Regions from separate parts of the Homo sapiens genome. Here region 2 is reported to be linked to region 1. Evidence: microRNA targets listed by miRTarBase, many of them from high-throughput screens and not tested one by one. Region 1 holds a microRNA gene; the other region holds the end of a gene's coding sequence.
What was found. Region 1 holds the annotated microRNA hsa-miR-641 (AAAGACAUAGGAUAGAGUCACCUC, at 1,145-1,168, shown strand). A microRNA usually pairs through its seed, bases 2 to 8, with sites in the 3' UTR of a target mRNA and lowers its output. Matches are read on the target gene's strand: a 7mer-m8 pairs with bases 2 to 8, a 7mer-A1 pairs with bases 2 to 7 and ends in A, and an 8mer does both.

Region 2: miRTarBase lists STAM as a target of hsa-miR-641. Seed matches in the 3' UTR shown: 7mer-m8 at 1,931-1,937 and 7mer-m8 at 1,514-1,520.

Annotation. Positions count from the first base shown.
Region 1 is chr19:40,280,520-40,283,770 of GRCh38, reverse strand. It overlaps MIR641 (microRNA 641), which reads left to right and starts at 1,130; the gene lies at 1,130-1,228. The region is part of intron 1 of AKT2 (AKT serine/threonine kinase 2); the gene reads left to right. RefSeq lists enhancers at 3,023-3,142, 3,183-3,232.
Region 2 is chr10:17,714,264-17,717,363 of GRCh38, reverse strand. STAM (signal transducing adaptor molecule) reads right to left here. Exons shown (of 14, transcript NM_003473.4): 14 at 540-2,821. The coding sequence ends at 2,584. Among named protein-coding and RNA genes, the nearest start is that of TMEM236, 36 kb to the left of the region's middle.

The DNA of each region.
Region 1 (3,251 bases):
AGGCTGCTCTGAAGGGCTTGGGACAGTCAGATCCCCCATGGATCTGGTGTCTTATTGTGGTCTGTGGGCTGGTGCTGGGAGCAGCCAGCCCCAGAGGTCTGTGGCCAGTGTCCCTGCTCCCTAGGCCAGATCATGACCTTGGCTTGCCCTGTAGCCTTTGCTCTGGGTCTGGAGTTCCCAGAGGACTGGCTGCAGTCCCTGATTGACCCAGCAGACCTGGGCTGGTGATGTGGTCAGAGGGGGCAGATGGTTGCCCCTAGTCCGCAGCAGTGACTTCCAAGCTGACTGGCTTCCGTGGCTCGTGGTTCCTGGAGAGAAAGGTCCCACAGTCTGTGAGGCAGCGGCGACTCTGTAGAATCTTTCTCCACTAGGGGTTTGTTCCTCTGGTCCTCTCCTGCCAGCTTTTAGAGGGTTTGCCTGATGGGGCTAACAGTGGCAGTGAAAACAGTAATCATGAAATTGATGGCTGACAGTAACTGAGTGCATTCTGTGGGCCACACACTGTTTGGAATGCTTCATATAGATAAACTTGCTGAATACTTGAATTCTAGAGCGGTAGGCGCTGTTGTTATGCTCTCCCTTTTAGATGAGAAAACAGCATCTCAGAGAGGCAGATCATTTCCAGAGCTAGTGGATGCCCAGTGTTTATAGCATTCACCCCATGCCAGGCGTGTGACAGGGCTTTTGTACATGTGATCTCACTTAAGTCTCAAAACATACCTGTGGTTAGGCCTATTTTATGGAGAGCTACGAGCTAGTTAGAAGTGTGATACCATTTTACAGATGAGGAATCATTTCACTCACTGTGAAGTGCAAAGATTTCCCAGAGGTCTCATAGCTGAAGTGGGAGAGGTGTGATGTGAGCCCTTGGCCAACCTTGGCCTCAGATCGTCTTGTCAAGGAGAAACTGGAGGAGTGGCTTTTGTCTGTGAGCATATACTCTGCCCAGCCCTGTGCTTTGGGCTTTATATGGTATTTGTGTCCTTTTTTGCAGAGTCCGAAATTGAAGTTCAGAGGAAGAATTGCCTTCCACCGCATCTTATCAGACCCTATGGGTGCCAGGGTAGGATTTGAACCCAGGTCACTGAGCCCCTAGTGCCATGCATTCCTTGCTCACCAGGTTCCAGGCTGGGTGAAAGGAAGGAAAGACATAGGATAGAGTCACCTCTGTCCTCTGTCCTCTACCTATAGAGGTGACTGTCCTATGTCTTTCCTTCCTCTTACCCCTGAGCCTCAGGCTGCCCTGAGCATCTCTGCCTACAGCCAGTCCAGCATTTCTTGGTCCCTCCTCAGAGTGGAGGCAAGGCATCCTTTAACCCTGGGCAGGTGTGTGCTGGGAGAAGAAGACAGCAAGAGAGCCATGCAGGGGGTGACACAGCTACCAGGGACCTGCGTTAGCTAGCAGCAGGACGGTGAAGTCGGTTCTAGCTCTGCGACCTTGGACCACACTGTTCACTCCCATACAGTGGTCTCAGAAGGACGTCCACCTTGGGCTGTTGTGAGGATTAAATGAATTAATCCACGAGAAGCTCCTAGAATGGTGCCTGGTACTGTGTAAGTCTTGGTTGGCAGTCATGATTATGTTATGGAACGGAGGCATCCAGCCTCCCCCACCCCCTACTTTTGGTCCCCTCGAGCATTCCGGGATCCAGCTCCCCAGCCTGGCCCAGCTAGGATCCAGAACTTCAATGTTCTGGTTTCCAGCCTCTGTAAAGAGGTGTATGGAAGCGAGTGAGAGCACAGGGTTCAAATCCAGCCGTGCCACTCCATGGCTGTGTGACCTTGAGCAGGCTCCCCAACCCTTGTGAGCTCATTTCATCATCGGTGCCATGGGGATGATGATAATTCCCACCTGATAGGATTATTGTGAAGGCTGAGTGGATTAATTTGTGGGAAGCATTCATAACTGTTCTGGCATACAATAAGCCTACCGGAAATGTCTCCTCACTAAGAACAGTGCCCGACACATGGTGAGCTGTTGGTCTGTCTTAGCAATTGTAATTCTTAGTATTTCTGCCGGGACTTTGAAGGCCTTTGCCAGTTCACAGAACCGTGTCAGAGAGCACTAGGAGGAGATCAGGGCTGAAATTAGCATCTCAGTTTTACAGATGCAGAAACAGAGGTCGGGGGAGACATGCAATCAAGTCAGAACTGACAAGGGCAGCTCCCGGGCCCACTCCTCTTCCACGCAGTGGCTTTGCAGCCCTGAGCGCCTCCAAGGTAGACACACTGGAGTCTTTTCAGAGGTCAGGCTCTGTGCTTGTTTTTTTTTTTCTTTTGAGACAGGGCCTCCCTCTGTCACCCAGGCTGGAGTGCAGTGGTGTGATCACAGCTCACTGCAGGCTTGACCTCCTAGGCTTTAGTGATCCTTCCACCTCATCCTCTTGAGTAGCTGGGACTACAGGTGCATGCCACCATGCCTAGCTAATTTTTAAATTTTTTGTGGAAACGGGAGTCTCGCTATGTTGCTCAGGCTAGTCTTGAACTCCTGGGCTCAAGTGATCCTCCTGCCTCAGTCTCCTGAGTAGCTGGGACCGTAGGTGCATGCCACTGCCCCTGGTTCCCAGCCCACCACAGCTCACAGCTCTGGGAGTGGCAGGAAGGCTGGGCCTGGGCAGGGGGAGCAGCAGAAGTGCCTGCAGGGGTTGGCAGGGGCTGTGCTGCACTGGCCTGTGGGCCTGGGTGAGAGGTGAGGATGGATCCTAAGGGTATTGTGGAGCCGAGGAAAAGGTTTCACTCATCCGCCACCATTTACTGAACACCTCGTATGTGCCAGCGTTGCATCAGTACTGGGAATACAGCAGTGTACTTGCCAAAGTCCCTATCCTTGTGGGGCTAAGCAAGACCAACCCGAAACAGGTTAATAAGCAAGGAGCCGGTTAGAGGGGGAGGAGCTAGGCAGCGAATTCAAATCAGGTGACAGACTGGGCACTTCTTTAGATGCATGCGGCTGTGGGGAGGGCCTCTGAGCTGATCCCAGTTTGGCAAGGTGAGGCAGTCATGTGGGATGGGAGGAGAAGGAACAGCCCTCCAGGTGGAGGGAACCACAGTGCAAAGGTCTGAAGGGAGGACAGAGCTTGGTGAGGTGCAGGGACAAGCCTCACGGAGGCCTGTGTGGCTTGGCAGAGCGAGGGAGCAGGGAGGAGATGAGTCCTGGGGCTGCGGGGCAGGCAGGGCCCTTTCACTGGGAGCCTTGTGGACTGTCTGTGAAGGAGTTTGGAATTTCAGCAGGAACAGCCTGGTCAGATTCA
Region 2 (3,100 bases), not on the chromosome of region 1:
GTTATTTATTTCTCACTCTGTCTCCCAGGCTGGAATGCAGTGGCGTGATCTCGTCTCACTGCAACCTCCGTCTCCCAGGTTCAAGCAATTCTCTCGCCTCAGCCTCCTGAGTAGCTGGGATTACCAGGTGCCTGCCACCACGCCCAGCTAATTTTTGTAGTTTTGTAAAGACGGGGTTTCACCATGTTGGTCAGACTGGTCTCGAACTCCTGACCTCAAATGATCCGCCCGCCACGGCCTCCCAAAGTGCTGGGATTACAGGTGTGACCCACTGCGTCCAGCCTATGTTACAGCTAGTTCATTTTATAAATTATTCTATTCCTTCAAAATAAGGACAGCTATTAATGAAAGATTTCTTGAAAGTGCAAGACCTGCAGGTTTCAGAACTTAAAGTCATTCATGATCCTAACTGGCCCCCTCCTATTTCTACCCTCGTCTTGTCATTTGAAAGACAAGCCAGTGCTTCACTTTCATTGGATTTTTTCCCCCTGGTATTTTCATTTTTAATAATGGGAAGGCATAAACTAACACAGTAACAGTTTTAAAGTACTCATCATTTAAACCTTTATAAGGCTAGTAATGTAAAAGGTAAAGAAAAATGTATATGGGTTGTAATAAGGGTAGTTTTTTCTATTCACTGTTACTTGACTTTTATAGGGCAAAAATCATAGTAGAGACTATGTCATTGATTTTCAGCATGAAAGATATCAAAATTAAAATGGGAAAATGATACATTTAACATTGGTAAACAGGAATTTATCAAAAGACAAAGAAAAATTGCAGAAAAGTATATCAGTTAAACCATAATACTCAAATTGGAGTGGAAAAGATTATAATCCGACAGATATTTATCAAAAACTAACTTATAGTATTTAAAATGTGAAATTTGACTTCAGGGCAGGGCAACATATTTTAAACACAGGAAATCAGAACACAACACTTGAGCGAAACACTTAAGTTACCCTTAAGTAATCTTACAGGTGACTAATTTCACAGGCTCAGATTTAAAACTACGGTGCTTTAAATCTGAGTCTGTGAAATTAGTCACCCTTAAGATTACTGGCTAAAGATTTAATCTTCTCTCAAAAAGAAAATAAACAAGCTACCTGATTACAACAGTCTTAGAAAATAAAAATGAAATTTTCATTTATAGTATGAAACCTGTTACATCAATTCATTAAATATGATGTTCGACTCAACTTTTCCGTTGTTTAAATAGTGCTAAAATAATAGTATAGCCCAACCAGGGAAATCGTAAATATTTAAGATTACAATGTCAGTGGAAAACATTTTTCGCATGAATTAAAAGAAAAGCATTCATTTGAAAATATTCCCAAGTAAGAAGCCAAAATAATTCCATTAGAATTTTAAAAGGCCAGAAAGAGCAACCCAAAAATCCAGTGTGAAAGAAAACAATACCTATATAAACGTTAAGCAAAGCCAGGAATGTAGATTACTTTGAAACATCTACTTATTTCCATTTTAATGAAGAATTAAAGGATACAATGTGTTAAAGACATATTTAAAATACTAGCAAGGGATTAGACAGACGAATCAAATTTTGTTGATATCCCAAATAATTACAAGAGACTTCGAAAATGTAGTGTAATTCAGGTTTTCTTTCCAGTTTAAAAATTTCTATCCATTGCCTCTATCTTTGGTGTCACTGCCACCAATAAACACAGTATACAGCTTAGAAACCTAATTACTATCTTCAACTAGGAAAAGGTAAACCAACATCATTTCTTTAAAATGAGAAATAAAGAATGTGATCGTACTTAATTTTGTCTCATGGTCCCACAATACTCTGAAATGTCATGCCAAAATGTAAAAGTTCAAAAGGGAACATTATCATTTGCTATAATTGCACCAAAAATTTAGCTACTGTACGCTGGTGTGATGACAGCCAGTAGTATGCAGAGGCTACAGAAAGACATGTAGATATATATATATACACACACATATATATATATATCTCTTTAGCTCACAATTAGTAAAAGGTTCAGTTTAATGTGAAACTGAAACACACGACAACATAATGCGCCTTCATGTAAATACGCTAACAACTTTGTTTTCTTGAAGTTTAAAAGGATAGTATAATTACCTTAAATTTACACAAAACATTAAGAAACATGGTAGTTGTTTATGATTAAAATAAAATAGCAACGTAAATTAATTTAACACAGTGTTAAATATATTCACACGATCACCACTGTGATTCAAAATGGCCACTAATGCAGTTACATATCAATATATGTACATAACATTTGTCACAACAGTTTTTGTAAGTTTGACTTTCTGCAGACCAGGTTTACGAGACAAATAGCCTTGTATCAATTCTTTCATATTATGAAAGGAATTAAATGTTGTAAGTAGTTTCATTCCTCTGCAGGGGCGGGGGGGGAAGAACCTCTAAAAAGTCAGTGTAAATTGAGGAGAGTTCTACCTTCTTGAATATTTGAACCTGTTGACCTGGAGAGATTCCTATAAGCTGAGGATAAACACATCTTAAGATAGTAATGAATCTCATAACATTGTCAGTGGCATTTAGCAGGTATCTGCCACCAAGAGGAACACCGGGTCCTATAGCAGAGCCTTCTGAGAATATGGTTGCTGTGGCTGAGGTGGCTGTTGGCTGCCTCCGGGCTGAGGCAGAGTTGATGATGTTAAGTTATAGTTTGGCACCTGGGGCATATTAGGTCCTGCATTCTGGTACAGAGTGACATCGGCAGTTGCAGCAGCAGCAGTAGCGGCAGGAGGAGGACTATATACTGGCGCCTGGCTGGGATATGTGTTTCCTTGAACGGAACTGACCATTGTACTGTGGAGGAAGAAAAACACTCAATTACATCAATACTGATTTATAGAGCAACTACAGATAAATGGAAAAGCTATTTACTAAGCATTCATTCATATAGTCAATTCATTTAATAACCTTTTACTAAACAGCTATAATGTGCCAAACATTGTTATTTTAGGCTTTGTGATATCAGGCATTGCATTAAAAATATGTGTGTTATTTAACCATTGTGTAAAAAAAGTTGGGGGGGGTGGTTTGCGGAAATAAGTCTATACCACCATGGAGCGTCTGTTCTAGTGG